Linked DNA regions of Homo sapiens: region 1 is linked to region 2. A link means that fine-mapping ties the variant in region 2 to the expression of a gene that starts in the linked region. Tissue or cell type: amygdala. Region 2 holds a variant in brackets; the other region holds the start of a gene. All regions are shown on one strand. Distances are between the middles of the regions.

Region 1 (8,103 bases), 980 kb before region 2:
AAAGTACATTTTTACTCATCAATAATAACATTGAATGGAATTGACTAAACTTTTCAGTCAAAAGACATAGAGAACCTGAATGGATTAAAAACAAACAAGACCCAATAATCTGTTGCCAACAAAATAAACACTTCACATATAAAGAAATACACAGACTGAAAACAAAAGGATGGAAAAGTATATTCCATGCCAATAGAAACCAAAAAAGAGCAGAAGTAGCTATACTTATATCAAACAAAATAAATTTCAAGACAAAAACTATAATAAGAGACAAAGGAGGTCACTATATAATGATAAAGGGGTCTGAATTGCTAAAAAGGATATAACAATTTTATATATATGCATCCAACACTGAAGCACCCATATATATAAAACAAATATTATTAGAGCTCAAGAGAGAGATAGACTCCAATATAATAATAGCTGGAGACTCTAACACCCCACTTTCAGCATCGGAAAGGTCTTCCAGACAGAAAATCAACAAAGAAACATTGGACTTAATCTGCACTATATACCAAATGGACCTAATAGATATTTACACAACATTTCATCCAACAGCTGCAGAATATCTTTTCCTCAGCACAAAGATTATCCTCAAGGATAGACCATATGTTAGGTCATAAAATAAGTCTTAAAACATTCAAACAATTGAAATAATATTAAACATTTTCTCTGACCATGATGGAATAAAGCTATAAAAACAAGAGGAATTTTGGAAACTATAAAAATACATGGAAATTAAACCATATGATCCTGAATGACCAGTGAGCCAATGAAGTAATAAAAAAGGAAGTGGAAAATTTTCTTGAAACAAATGATAGTGGAAACACAACAGACCAAAACCTGTGGGATACAGCAAAAGCAGTACTATAAGGGATATTTACAGCTATAAGTGCCCACATCAAAAAAGAAGAAAAACTGCAAATAAACAACCTAACAATACACCTTAAATAACTAGAAAAGCAAGAGCAAACCAAACACAAAATTAGTAGAAGAAAAGAAATAATAAAGATCAGAGAAGAAATAAGTGAAATTGAAATGAAGAAAACAATACAAAATAATCAATCAAACAAAAATGGTTTTCTTGAAAAGTTAAGCAAAATTTACAAAGCATTGGCCAGACTAAGAAGAGGGAAGGTCAAAATAAATAAAATCAGAGATGAAAAAGGAGACATTATAACTGATACTGAAGAAATTCAAAGGATCATTAGTGGTTACTATGACCAATTCTATGTCGTTACATTGGGAAATCTAGAAAAAATGGGCATATCCTAGACATATACAACACACCAAGATTAAACCATGAAGAAATCCAAAACCTGAACAGACCAATAACAAGTAATGACATCAAAGCTATAATAAGAAGTCTCCCAGTAAAGAAAAGCCCAGGACCCAGTGGTTTTACTGCTGAATTCTACCAAACATTTAAAGAAGAACTAACACCAATCCTACTCAAACTCTTCTGAAAAATAGAGGAGGAGGGATTACTTCCAAACTCATTCTGCAAGGCCAATATGACTTTGTTATTAAAGCCAAACAAAAACACATTAAAAGGCCAAGTGCAGTGGCTCACACCTGTAATCCCAGCATTTGGGGAGGCTGAAGTGGGTGGATCACCTGAGATCAGGAGTTCAAGACCAGGCTGGCCAACATGGCAAAATCCAGTCTCTACTAAAAATACAAAAATTAGCTGTCATGGTGGTGGGTGCCTGTAGTCCTGGCTACTCAGGAAGCTGAGGCAACAGAATTACTTGAACCTGGGAGATGGAGGTTGCAGTGAGCCAAGATTGTGCCACCACACTCCAGCCTGAGCAACAGAGCAAGACTCCCTCTCAAAAAATACTTAAAAAATAAAAAACACGTTAAAAAAGGAAAACTAGTGGCCAATATCTCTGATGACTTTTTGTTTGTTTGTTTGTTTTGTTTTCTGTTTTTTGTTTTGAAACTGGGTCTTCCTCTGTCACCCAGGCTGGAGTGCAGTGGCGTGATGATCTCAGCTCACTACAGCCTCGACCTCCCAGGCTCAAGCAATTCTCCCAGGAGCCTCCCAAATAGCTGGGACTACAGGCACATGCGACCAAAATGTGATTTCTCACCTGATCTCCCTAGTCCCCACTCTGACCGGTGTTCCATAATGGCATTCTTGTTCCTCATGGGGAAACATAGACTGATGGTTGCAAATCCCATGTCTGCCAGGGCCAACACATTAGCCATCACCATCATAGATGATTGGCCTCCACCTTCCAAGTCTTAAGTAAATGCATCTTATTGTCAGAACTTAAATCATACCTAGAACCCTATGGCAAGAAAGTTCAGTAAATGTATATTTTCTAGCCTCTGTAGTACAGGGAGTGAAGATGGTGCCTTGTACTCAGTTGGGAAAGACTGGAGTAAGAATGAACTTGAGGAAAATGTTCTCTTTTGGCCATGTTAATTTTAAATTTTAATTAAATTTTAAATTTAAATTTAAATTTTAAAATACCGAATTTAAGGATGATGTGTTGCACAACTCTAGGGGATTCAATGGAGTGCCATCTACATTTATATATATATTTATATATATATATATAGACATATATAGATATATCTTATATATATCTATATATATAGACTTATATATAGATACATAAATATATATATTTAAATTTTTGTACAGACAGAGTCTCACTATGTTGCCTAGGCTGGTCTTGAACTCCTGGCCTCAAGTAATCCTCCTGCTTTGGCCTCCCTAAGTTATATATATTTTTTCATGTTGAGATGTATATTGATTCTGAGACATATATATGTATATATGTGTGTAAGTATATGTGTGTGTGTGTGCACCTAAAACTATATGTGATGGACCTGCCTCTTAGAATCAAAGTGAAGATTGTTGGGTTCATGAGTTTAGAGCTCAGAGAAGAGGTCAGGGCCAGAGATAAAACCCAGGACATCAATATGTAAAAGTTATGTAAAGAAAGCCGTGATACTAAATGAGATCATATAGGGAAGGAAGAGTCTAATAGCACCTCAACATTTAGAATTCAGAATGAAGAGAAAGAGCCAGCAAAAGAAGCTGGTCATGAGTAGCCAATGAGGTAGGAGAAAATGAGAAGAATGTAGTGTCATGGAGACAAAACTGTTGCATTCTGTTGAGAGATCAAGAAAGATGCTGGCTGAGATCAACCATTCGGTTTTTGACACAGGACGGCAATTGTTACTGGTAAACAAGAGTGGTTTCATTATGATCGTGAAGAATTAGGATAGGCTAGAAGATGAGAAAGTGGAGTGGGTATAGCCAACACTTTCAGGAAATTTTACAGTAAAGAGGAGAGAAGAAATGATAGAGTAATTGTTGACTGGTGGCTAAAGATAGGTAGAATCTGTCACATTCAAAACGTAACCTTTCATTGATAAAACAAAGACACTTAAACAGGAATAGATATTGAATTTTATTAATAACGATTTTTAATAGACTTTATTTTTTAGAGTTGTTTTAGGCTTACAGAAAAATTGTACGGAAACTGAGATTTCCCATGAAAACCCTCCCCATGCACACATGGTTTCTCTTATGATTAATATCTTGCATTTGTGCTATTTGTTACAACTGATAAGCCAATATTGATTCATTATTATTAACTAAGGTTTATAGTTTACCATAGGGTTCATTTTTTGGGTTGTACAGTTTTATTAATTTTGACAAATGCTTAATGCCATGTATCCACTCTTCCAGTGTCACACAAAATAGTTTCACTGACCTAAAAATGCCCTGTGTTACAATTATTTGTCCCTTTTCTCCAAACCTCTACCAACTGAGGCAGAGAATAGGGTCTGGAGGCAGGGAACCTAAGGCCGATTCATGCTGACTGGACATCAGAGGCTACTTCCTTTTCAACCCCTCCTTTTTCTGGGTGGCAGATGAAAAATGACAATATCTCTAAATGGTCCCTTCCCATAACCAATCAGACTGGTCATGGGCCTACTCTTCACTCTGATTGGTCCCCTCCTACAACCAATCAGACTGGTGATGGGCCACTACTGCGTTTGCATAGAGTGAACCAATGGGAAACCTCTAGATGGTATTTAAATCCCAGAAAAATCTGTAACCGACACTCTTGAGCCACTTGCTTGAGCCCACTGCCACCCTGAGGAGTGTACTTTCTTTTAGAATAAATCTCTGCTTTTGCTGCCTTGCTTTGTTTGCGCATTTTGTCCAATTCTTTGTTCAAAATGCCAAGAACCTGAACAACTACCTTCAACCGGTAACACAACCATTGATCCTTTTACTGTCTCTATAATTTTGTCTTTGCCAGAATGTCAAATAGTTGGAATCATATAGTAAGTAGGTTTTCAGATTGGTTTCTTTCACTTAGCAATATACATATAAGTTTCCTCCATGTCTTTTTACAGTTTTATAGTTCATTTCTTTTATCACTGAATAATATTCCATTGTACACAGTATGTTTTTCCATTCACCCATTGAAGGATATCTTAGTTGCTTCCAATTTTTGACAATCAAGAATAAAACTGCTATAAGCATTCATGTGCAAATTTCTGTGTGGATAAATTTTCAACTCATCTGGGCAAATACCAAGAAGTGAAATTGCTGAATCATATGGTAAGCCTATGTTTAACTTTGTTAGAAACTGATAGACTATCTTCCAAAATAGCTCTACTATTTTGCATTTCCACCAGCAATGAATGAGGATTCCTGTTGTTACATATTTTCACCACTTTGTGTTGTCAGTGTTTTGGATTTTAGCCATTCTAATAGGTGTGTATTGGTGTCTTAATTTGCAATTACGTAATAACATATGATGTTGGGCATTTGTTCATATGCTTATTTGCAAACTGTATATTCTCTTTGGAGGTGCTTCAGTTCAGATCTTTTGCTCACTTTGTAATTGGGTTGTTTTAACACAATTGGGTTGGTTGTTTATTGTTAAGTTTTAAGGGTGTTTTGTATATTTTGGGTGTAAGTCCTTTATCAGATATGTGTTCTGCAAATATCTTCTCCCAGTCTGTGGCTTTTCTTTAAATTTTCTTAATATTATCTTCCACAGAGAAGTCTTTAATTTTAATGAAGTCTAAATTATCAACTTTTTCTTTCATGGATCATACTTTTGGTACTATATCTAAAAAGTCATCGTCAAACCCAAGGTCACCTAGATTTTCTCCCATGTTGTCTTCTGGAAGTTGTGTAGTTTTTTGTGTCATGTTTAGGTCTATGATTCATTTTGAGTTCATTTTGTGAAAGGTGTAAAATCTGTGTCTAAGTTTTGTTTTGTTTATTTTGGTTTTTGGCATGGTGATGTCCAGTTGTTCCAGCACTATTTATTGAAAAGCCTTTTCTCCATTGAATTGCCTTTGCTCCTTTGTCAAAGTCCTGTTGAACTATATTTGCATGGGTCTATTTCTGCGCTCTCCATTATGTTCCACTGATCTATTTGTCTATTACTTTGTCAATGTTTTCATCACTATGGCTCAATAGTAAGTCTTGAAGCCATAGAGTGCCAATCCTCTGACTTTATTTTTTTTTTCCATATTGTGTTGGATATTCTGGTTCTTTTTCCTTTCTATATAAACTTCAGAATCTGTTTACCAATATCCATGAAATAAATTACTGTGATTTTGATTGGGATTATGTTAAATCTATATGGGAAGAACTGACATTTTAATAACATTTTCTTGCTGTCCGTGAACATGGAATATCTTTTCATTTTTGTTTTCTTTGATTTTTTAACAGTTGTATAGTTTTCCTCATATAAGTATTATACATATTTTGTTAAGTTTATAACTATGTCATTTTTAGTGATAATATAAAAGAAGTCGTGTTTTTAATTTAAAATGTTAATTGTTCATTGCCATTAGATAGAAAAGCAATTGAGTTTTTTATATTAATCTTTTTTCCTACAAACTCACTATAATCACGTAGTGGTTCCAGGATTTTTTGTTGGTTCTTTAGAATTTTCCAAATAGATAATTATATCATCCACAAGCATAGTTATACTTATTCCTTTTCAATCCATATCCCTTTTAAATCCTTTTCTTATTTTATTGCATTAGCTAGGACTTCCAATGTGAAGTTGAATAGGAATGGTGAGGGAGACATCCTTATTTTGTTCTCAGACTTGAAGTTTCTGTCTATTCCTAGTTTTCTGAGAATGTATATAATGAATGGGTGTTGGATTTTGTCAAATGCTTTCTCTACATTTGAAAAATTCTATAATTTTTCTTCTCTAGTCTGTTGATGTGAAAAATTACATTAATTGATTTTTAAAATGTTGAATCAGTTTTGAATACCTGGAATAAATTCCAGTTAACCATGGTATATAATTCATTTCAAATTACTTTTTAACTTTTATCAAGATGATTTATATGTGATGATTTTATTATTATATTTACTAATATTGGATTTTCCTAGTATTTCTGCAATTGAACTACATGTTTTACGATGTATTCGCTTTTTAATATGTTCATAAATTAAACCTGTATTATTTCATTGAGGATGTTTCTACCTAGTGGTGGTAGTGTGGAAGCATTAGATGCTTCATACTGGAAAAGAGCAATGGCTTTCAAATCACATTATCCTGGATCTGAATCCTAACTCCACAACTTAGTGATGGTCTGTGCTTGGACTAGTTATTTAATTTCCCTAGGACCTTAATACTGTCCACATAAGACTGTAGGATTAAATAAATTAGTACAACCTCTATGGAAAACAATATGGAGATTTCTAAAAGAACTAAACATAGAACTACCATTTGATCTGGCAATACTACTACTGGGTATTTACCCAAGGGAAAATAAATCATTATATTAAAAAGATGCCTGCATAGGTATGTTTATCTCAGCACTATTCACAATTGCAAAGATATGGAATCAACCCAAGTATCCATCAGTGGATGATTGGATTTTTAAAATGTGGTGTATATATATATGTGCAATGGAATACTACTCAAGCATAAGAAGAACAAAATCATGTCTTTTGCAGCAACATGGATGGAACTGGAAGCAATTAAGTGAACTCAGAAACAGAAAATGAAACACTGCATGTTCTTAGTTATAAGTGGGAGTGAAATAATTCATATACGTGGGCATAGACACTGGAGTTATAAGCAGGAGTGAAATAATTCATACACATGGAATAATGGACACTGGAGACTGAGAAGAGTGGGAGGGGGGTGAGGGATGAGAAATTACTTGAGGAGTACAGTGTGCACTATTCAGGTAATGGCTATACTAAGAGCCCAGATTTCACCACTATGCAATATATCCATGTAACAAAACTGCACTTGTATCCCCAAAATCTATATACGTTTTAAAAAAAAATTATGTCTCATGGCATATGTAAGCACTCAATTAATTCGAGTTATTAATGTTAATATTTTAGGTGAGATTATATAAATACTTTTTTTGCACTCCTTTGCCACATTTTATCAGTTTTTAGCAGATAAGAATCTCAATGTATAAACAACAACAGAGAAAACAACATTCACATTTTAAAATTTATTTTTAATCATTTTCACTTCAACACTAAGATTCCCATCCAGCTCTATAGACAGGAAGTTATACCTCAACCATTCTTGGGATTACCCCTTCCCCAGGTGTTACAAGGTTCTGGGGTCTTACATGGCATCAAGACTTTGAGATATGCTCAGTCATAGGTCATTCTTGCTGATACGCAGTCTTGCATAATCTGCAGGCCAGTTCTGGCCCAGAAGTACAGAATTACAGAAAAATATGGTTAGAAAAATAGGCTCAGGGACCAAATCCAAATCCCCCAGGTTTAAATTCTGTCTCTGCCTAGCTGAACCTCAGTTTTCTAATCTATAAAATGGGGAGAATGATAATACTTAACCCATAGAGTTTATGTGAGAAATAAATGAATTAGAGCAGGTGTAAATGTTAGCTACTTTTTAAAATTAATTATAGCATGGGAACCTTGGACAGGGTTAGAGATTCCACTAAAGTTCTGCATCTTCTGGGTGGTACCGCTAAAGAGCAGAGAAAGAGTCATCATTCAAGGGACTCACAAATCTTTATCCCCTACCCAGTCTCTTGCTTGATGCTTCTCAAAGGGCGCTATCCCTCACTTCTACCCCTCAGGACATCCAGCAAGAT
Region 2 (8,110 bases):
TCAGCTCTGTCCCAGATTCCAAAACTCACAAGTAGGACATTCAAAACGGAATCTTGAAGCTCCCGAAGATGTTTTATTAAATCATTTCAAAATGAATAATATTCAATATGGTTTGTGATATTTAGAAGGCAGAGAGGACATACTAACTTTCCCTCCATGGGTGGCCTTCTATTCCCTTACATTAAAATCTAAGGCACTGACAGTTGAATTGCTTAATAAACAAACTCAACATCCAAAAGACCCTCAGCTGAGCAATATCCTCAGACTCTTCTTGTGAATTCCTGAAGTTCCCTTGACATGCTCAGTTCATTAAAAGCCTTTCACCTGGTGGGCAGAAATTGTCTCCAGGCTTATGATGAATGAAAAAGAACAGAATACTAAATTTAAGAATTTAAGAAGTCCAGCTTATATTCCCATTATTGGCAGATAACAAAATTGAGGCTCAAAAGAGGCTGGATCAACTGGATCACTTAGCTGCATAGTGCAAAAGCTGAGACCAAGTCCTAAACACATATTCTTTCTCATTTCTAGACTTCCAGTTCAATGCCTGCTCACTTTCTTCTCTAATCTCACTATCTCCATCTATTCTTTTTTTTTTTTGGAGCTGGGATTACAGGTGCCTGCCACCACGCCCGGCTAATTTTTGTTATTTTTAGTAGAGATAGGGTTTCACCATGTTGACCAGGCTGGTCTCAAACTCCTGACCTCAGGTGATCCACCTGCCTCGGCCTCCCAAAGGGCTGGGATTACAGGTGTGAGCCACTGCTCCTGGCCCACCATCTCCATCTATTCTAAAAACAGAAACAGAAAAACAACAACAAAAACAACAACAACAAAAAACTGTCTCCAAATAGATCAGTCACAAATCCAGTCCCTTCTTTCCATTTCCACTGGCATCTTCCCAGTTCAACACCACGGTCCCTTGCCTAGACAACTGTAGCAGCTTACTAACTCCTCCTTGTTTCTCTAGTCTTGCCCTACCTTTCTGCCTACATCAAGTACATCATGGGTTGTCTCTATAAAAATATTCCCTTATTTAACACCCTTTGAATGTACCTCATTGTCTTAAGGTATAAGACAATGAGCAGAAGATACAAGACCTTTCAAGGTTTAGCCAAATTTTTCTTTTCAGATTTATGCTGTATAGATTTTGCTTGTTGGCTTCTCAGCTCTCCACCCTTCTTCACTCTGATCTGTGCCTGGGAAGCTGATAAGCATGGAGCACATATGGCTTCTGGTTGGGTTTGGCAAAGGGACAACACTAGCAGGAGATGAGAAGCAGAATGACAGTGAGAATGGGCATTTATTTGCTGGATTCCTCACTGCAGTCTCCTTAGGAGAATCTCTGCAGTTGGATAATTGCTACAAGGACACCCCGTCTAGGAGGGGTAACAATCCCATACTTAATAGTCCTGGAGTACCTCTCAAGTGTTAATACATCTGGCCCACTTTTTGGTAAATAACTCCTATGTTAAATTCTCCACAAATAATTCACTTCGAGTTCTATTAGTGGTTCCTTGCCAGTCTGATATTTGGCCAATCCCAAGTTGATGCCTTAATTTACAATTACAATTTGCAACTTACAATTATATTGAATAATGATAGTCTCTGAAACAAATGCACCCTGTTCATTCTTCTCTGAAGCTTTGTTCCTGTTGTTTATTTCTGTCTGAATTGCATTTGTATGCATGTATTTCTGTCTGAATTGGATTCCTACTTCCCATTACCCCCAACATCATATCTCAGGTCCTAGACTAACTGCTCCTAGACTCCTTCTGATTGAATGCAAATGGCTACATAGACATCTCTAATCCCCCTGTGCTTCCCCCTATTGGATCACCCTTGACAACGTGCTGTTGTGTGTTCCCTAATACATGGGAAACATGGAGGCCGGGAGCTGTATCATTCATCCTCATAAACTCACTACCTAGCACAGATCCCACAACAGCATAGCAACTCAACAAATCTTACTTAAATAAAATGTATCTTTATTTGGATGTGGAGGTCTTTCCCTTCCAGTTCTTACTTGGCTTGAAATTTTCCCTTGAATCTCCCAGGGAGTTATTGTAATTACCAGATGCTGGGCAAGTACCAACAAACCGTGAGAAGAACACTGTTCTAATCCTTGAGAAGCTCAAAGTCCATGATCTAACTCCCAGGCTATTTAAGAGCTCAAAGCAGATGATATGTAAGTAAAAATGCATTTTAAATAAGATATTGAAGCCAAATATGATTTGGTTTCAAAAGAGAAATTAATATTTTGAAGAAGGCATCACAAATCCAGATCCATTTATCTGAAGTACAAGACTGCCCTGCCAAATTAAATGTCTGATTCTTTATTCCCGCCAGTTTCTAAAATCTGTCAGCGATTGCTGACTCAAAAACAAAAGCATAAACAACACAGTTTAAAGATGTTCTTAACAAGTATCTGGTCCTTTCTGATGCTATGTGACAGAGCAGGGAAGACCATGCTGCAGGTGGACCATTCTATTCAAGTTACAATGGCTTTCCAATTAAGTTAGGGCAAAATTGTCACCACATTCTAGCATCACCTCACATTTTGTTCTAAAGATTTTGTCGACTATACCTCACATTTTGTATATAGATTTTGTCAACACATGTTTGTGCCATGAGTTTGGGAATTGTAGTAATTTTCATGATAAGGACAATGGCAAACCTAAGTGTTGAGATTAAGTATTAATTTTTTTTTTTTTTTTGAGACGGAGTCTTGCTCTGTCACCCAGGCTGGACTGCAGTGGCATGATCTCGGCTCACTGCAAGCTCCGCCTCCTGGGTTCATGCCATTCTCCTGCCTCAGCCTACTCAACAGCTGGGACTACAGGCGCATGCCGCCACGCCTGGCTAATTTTTTTGTATTTTTAGTAGAGACGGGGTTTCACCATGTTAACCAGGATGGTCTCGATCTTCTGACCTCGTGATCTGCCTGCCTCGGCCCTCCAAAGTGCTGGGATTACAGGCGTGAGCCAATGTGCCTGGCCAAGTATTAAATTGTTATATGACAGCTTCTTAGAAGCTTTGAACATCTGAGTCAGAGTCTGTGATATAGTTTCAAGCAAGTAGTTGTTTGTTTTGTTTTGTTATTTTCTGTTCCCATCTGCCAGGTTGGCTTTTTGAGCAGCAACCTCCCTGTCCACCCTTGAAGGCAAAGTTCCCTATAAAGGGCTGCCATACTACCCTTTTGCTAGCTTGGGACATCAGTTCTCCCCTATGGTGCATTACATACTGTTACATCACGTTTTAGCAATTATGTACAAAGAACTGAAATTAAGAATTTTTTTAACTTTTATTTTAGGTTTAGGCGTATATGTGCAGGCTTGTTATATAGGTAAACTGTGTGTTGTGGGGGTTTGGTGTCCAGATTATTTAGTCACCCAGGTAATAAGGATAATACTCAATAGATTTTTTTTAAATCCTCTCCCTCCTCCCACCCTCCACCATCAAGTAGACTCCAGTGTCTCATTCTTTTCTTTATGTCCATGCATTCTCACAAAACAGATTTTTAATAAATTAGTGTGAATCAAGATTGTTTCTATTATAGCTTCCTTCTTACTTTTGCTTGCATTGCAAATTGCTCTCTTCATTAGGAATGAAAGGAGTGAACTTATCATAAATGCATAGAAAAACCCACAGCCAATCTCACTTATGCCACATGTGACTGTTCACCATGTGAGTTGCAAGGAAAATGTGAATGATCACCATATTTCATCAATTGTAAAAGGCAACTTTTTCCACATTTTTATATACCTGAAATAAGGCTGCATCTTACAGTTGATCATACCTTATAGTTAAAATAGGCAGGTTTTTAAAATGGAATATAACATATAATGCTGTATCCCACATTAGCTGCATTTTAGACTCAAAGTTAATTACCCCAGGACCCATATCCCACTCTTTATTTTGAAATTTCTCTCTAGTCAGGCACAATGGTTCCTACAATATTGTCTGTCCTTCTTCTCTCACTGGTCCTGTCATATTATTAACTCATTTTAAAAATATTGATTGTCTATTTTGCCGGATCTCATATTCTTATAAAGTGGTTCCATTTATAGAACAGTCATTGCACCTAATTTAGACCAGTTCAAGATATTTCAGAACTTATCTTTCAGGTAAGCCCATGTTGGCCATTTGTTTGAACAAGAGCCTCTGAAAACTGTTTGGTGGATTCTAACTACAGATGGGTTATTTAGGAAAGAGAAGCCATTTCTTAATGAATGGGAGTATGCCTCATACCAGCTTATGTAAAATCACAGCAGTACTATCGCATGGCTGGAATCACATAAGCATTGGCTACCAGATCCCCTGAGACAGGTGCAGAGCTGAGAAAATCACGGTGGGAGTGATTGTGGAGGGAGTAATGATTGTGAGACAGCAGGAGGGAGAAGCTTCCTACCCTACCACTCCCAGCTTTTGGAACTTCAAAGTGCTGATGTATCATAGACATTCAATATATGGTTGTTTAATGAATGAATATATTTAGCCAAAAAATCAGATTAAAGCAATTTGAATGAGTGGTGCTGAAAAGAAATGGAAATCACAAAGGCCAGTTGCCCCAAAGGGGTGTGCAGGGAAGGGAGAAGGCAAATGTCACTGACCTTGCTGTGGTGGTGAGGTTGGATGGGAGTTACTCTATCTTTCTGCCTGTCAACACTTGGGATTTATTATCATTGAGTCACTATTGTAAGAGCTTTATAAACATTAACCTACTTAATCTTCAAAATTATCTTATAACATAGCTACTATTATCTCAATTTTATTAATAAAGAGACTGATACACCAAGAGGTGAAGTGCCTTTCCCAGGGTCTCACAGCTAGTAAGTGACAGATTTAGGGTTTGAACACAGGACTCTGGTTCCAGAGTCTGTGCTT[T/C]GATCACTTCATTTCAGTGCATCTTTCTTCACTCAGGAGGTGTTCTCTATTTTAGTCATTACAATACTATGGCCTTTGAAGCCAGATGTCTGTGGTCTGTCCCAGACTTGAGGAGAGACAAACTCGGCTCTCAGGCTGCAGAATGATAGGCTGATAGGCCTGCCCTGTAGGTGTGGTCAGGCAGAGATGGCCGGCACACTCTCTAGATTTGACTTGGATATGATCCATGTTTTTAGAAATACAATTAAAAACTTTACTTAAAATTACATGTTCTGTTATAGTATTAAAATGACATCTCCCCTGTACCCTCAAATCCCAGGTTAGAAAAAAGTAATGTTTGACTTTCTTTGTTCTTTTTTGTCCTGGCATTGTAAAATATAGCCTAAAGAAAGTCCTGGGGAACTGCTCATAGCTATATGTCAAATGAATTATTTTATCAGTGTGTTAAAACAATTTTTTTAAGCCCACATTTTCTCTAAAACTCTTGATGGAAAATTAACATCTTGATGGGATACAGAATTAAAAACAAATACTTTAAGAAATTACTGCTAGAGGAATTAATCAAAATACTGAGAGGCAGCAGATTTGTTCTGAAAATAATCCTGATATCTGAGTTTCTGTCTTGAAAAGGAGAAATATTTACCTTTTAAAATTCCATACTATAAATACATTCTAAATCAAAATTCTGGCTCTTGATTGTTGTTTAATATCCAGAAAGGAAAATGGCTTTTGATTTGGGGTTGGCGTTTAACAGAAATCACAAAAGTGTCCATTTGTACACCATAGGCTGGATTTGGGCCTATGATACTAACAACATACCTTCAGTTTTAACAGAGGTTAGATATTTAATGCAGCATTAGAATCCAAGATGTAGACAGATGTCTCAGACAGACAAACATGGTAGCCAAGTAGACCTTGCTTTTTCAGCCTATGAGAGTGAGAGCTGTGTCTTTGTTCCTAGTGCCTAGCAAAGGGCTGGAACATAGGAGGCACAATATATGTACAATTGAGTTTCTCCAACTGAACAGAGATAGAAAACTGTTGCCTTTGTGCACCAATGGAAAGTTAAGGTATTAGAATTGCTACCCAAATATACTCAATAGTGATAGTGTATGTTTGTCTGGAATGTAGATGTAGATAATAAATAAAAAGTAGATTCACATGAAATTTTGAGAGCACACTTGACAGCATACAATGTCCATTTTATTTATTTCCTTGACACTGTGTTTTGCTCAGTTACTTGGATGTTGACAAATGCTATTATCATATTTTCTTCTTAGAAGCAATATGAATATTAAAACTAATCTTGGGAGATTCCACTGAATGCTTTTTTTTTTTTTTTTGAGATGGAGTCTCACTCTGTCACCCAGGCTGGAGTGCAGTGACGTGATCTCGGCTCACTGCAACCTCTGCCTCCCGAGTTCAAGCAATTCTCCTGCCTCAGCTTCCCAAGTAGCTGGGACTACAGGCACGTGCCACCACACCTGGCTAATTTTTTGTATTTTTAGTACAGATGGGGTTTCACCATGTTAGCCAGGATGGTCTCGATCTCCTGACCTCATGATCCACCCATCTCAGCCTCCCAAAGTGCTGGGATTACAGGTGTGAGCCACCATGCCTGGCCTGCCTTTTTTTTTTTTTTTTTATAATGAGTTATGAGTTAAGCCTATTTATCTTTGGTATTCTTCTTTGTGTTCCATGGCAATGCAGATTCCACTGTGTTCCTCCTTCTTATAAATTTGAAAAATGAGGAAAAATGAGATTGTGTGCCTTTAATTATATTATCAGCAATTGAGGGAAAATACAGGTACCATGTATTTTGCCAAGGTTATCTTTTCTAACAAACTGCCTGTTAATTTGTGGGAATGCTTCTGAGTCATTATTAGCAATGCTTTTGTTTGCTATTGTCTCTTAGAATCTTAATTTCTTACATATATTTTCTTTCATTTTTCTAACTTGATTCTCTCATCATCTTTTATGGTTTCTTAACATTCTTATTTACCAGTAGTAAATACAATTATTATCATTTTTTCTTAGTAGCTCACAGCAACATACATTTATCTGAGAGTCTAGAGTTTAGAAGACAAAAATAGGTTTCACTGGAATAAATTATCTGTCCACAGCACTGCATTCCTCCTAGAGGTCCAGGGAAGAAACTGTCTTCAAAGCCAGCGATGCCCTGTATAGTCTTTCTCGGGCTGTCAATCTGGTCTCTGCTTCTGTCATAACATCTTCTTCTCTGACTCTCCTGCCTCTCTTTTTCTATCAAAAGGCCCTTGTGATTAGATTAGGCACATCCAGATAATCTAGGATTGACTTCTCATCTCAAGATCCTTAATTTCGTCACATCTGAAAAGTCCTATTTGCCTTATAAGGTGACGTAATCATAGGTTTTAGGTATTGGGATATGGACATTTTGGGATTAATTATTCTGTAGTGTTCTTTTTTTAGGATAAAATTTTATTTTATATTTTCCCCTCTACTTTTAAGTTCTGGGGTACATGTGCAAAATGTGAGGATTTGTTACATAGGTAAATGTGTGTCATGGTAGTAATAATTATTTGATTAGAGAATTATCCCATCACCTGGGATTACAGTTATAATTCAATTAGGTCCTTGTTCTCATGGAGCTTATTTTCAACTGGGAGAAGGAAGACCATGGCAAATAAATATGGTAATTATATGTGGTGACAAATGCTGTGAAGAAACTAAAACAGGCTATCATTTTACAATAAAAAGGTAGCAGGCTCTGATGGTCAAGAGCAGGGAGGCTACAGCCAGACCAGAATTTTAATCTCAGCACTAATACTTTGCTGTGTGATCTTGGGCAAGTTATTGAGCCTTTCTGTGCCTTTGTTTCTTCATCTCTGAAAAGGAAACAATCATAGCCCCTATCTCACAGGCTTGTTTTAGGGATTACATTAATTAATACATGGAATACATAGAACCCTATCTGATATACAGTAGGCACTTTGCAAGATTAACTTTTTTTTTCATTATTTTAGTAATTAATACCTCCCGGATACTTTCTATCAGCCGGAAATTATTATTATAACTTGTCCATCAAAATTACCCTATGAAGTAGGTGTTAGTCCCTTTTCACAGATGAGAAATCTGAAGGTTGGAGAGGCTAAATAACTATCACAAGGTCATGCAGCTAGCCAAGTAGCAGAAGCACTGCATTTGACTTCTGCTCTGTCCTCAAACATCTTTGCCTCTCTTC

Alleles and levels. Positions count from the first base shown, and alleles are read on the strand shown. Sizes are in standard deviations (SD) of each study's normalised expression.
As copies of C replace T in region 2, the expression in amygdala of the gene that starts at base 3,109 in region 1 goes up (large effect, 0.87 SD a copy in GTEx).

Evidence for each region. PIP is the estimated chance that this variant, and not a neighbour inherited with it, causes the effect.
Region 1: LINC02734 starts here. The variant in region 2 is fine-mapped to the expression of LINC02734 in amygdala (GTEx, PIP above 0.99).

The regions. Positions count from the first base shown.
Region 1 is chr11:82,778,394-82,786,496 of GRCh38, forward strand. LINC02734 (long intergenic non-protein coding RNA 2734) reads left to right here and starts at 3,109. Exons shown (of 3, transcript NR_183631.1): 1 at 3,109-3,202.
Region 2 is chr11:83,759,882-83,767,991 of GRCh38, forward strand. The region is part of intron 18 of DLG2 (discs large MAGUK scaffold protein 2); the gene reads right to left. Among named protein-coding and RNA genes, the nearest start is that of DLG2-AS2, 130 kb to the left of the region's middle. The variant T/C (reference allele first, on the strand shown) is at 4,888.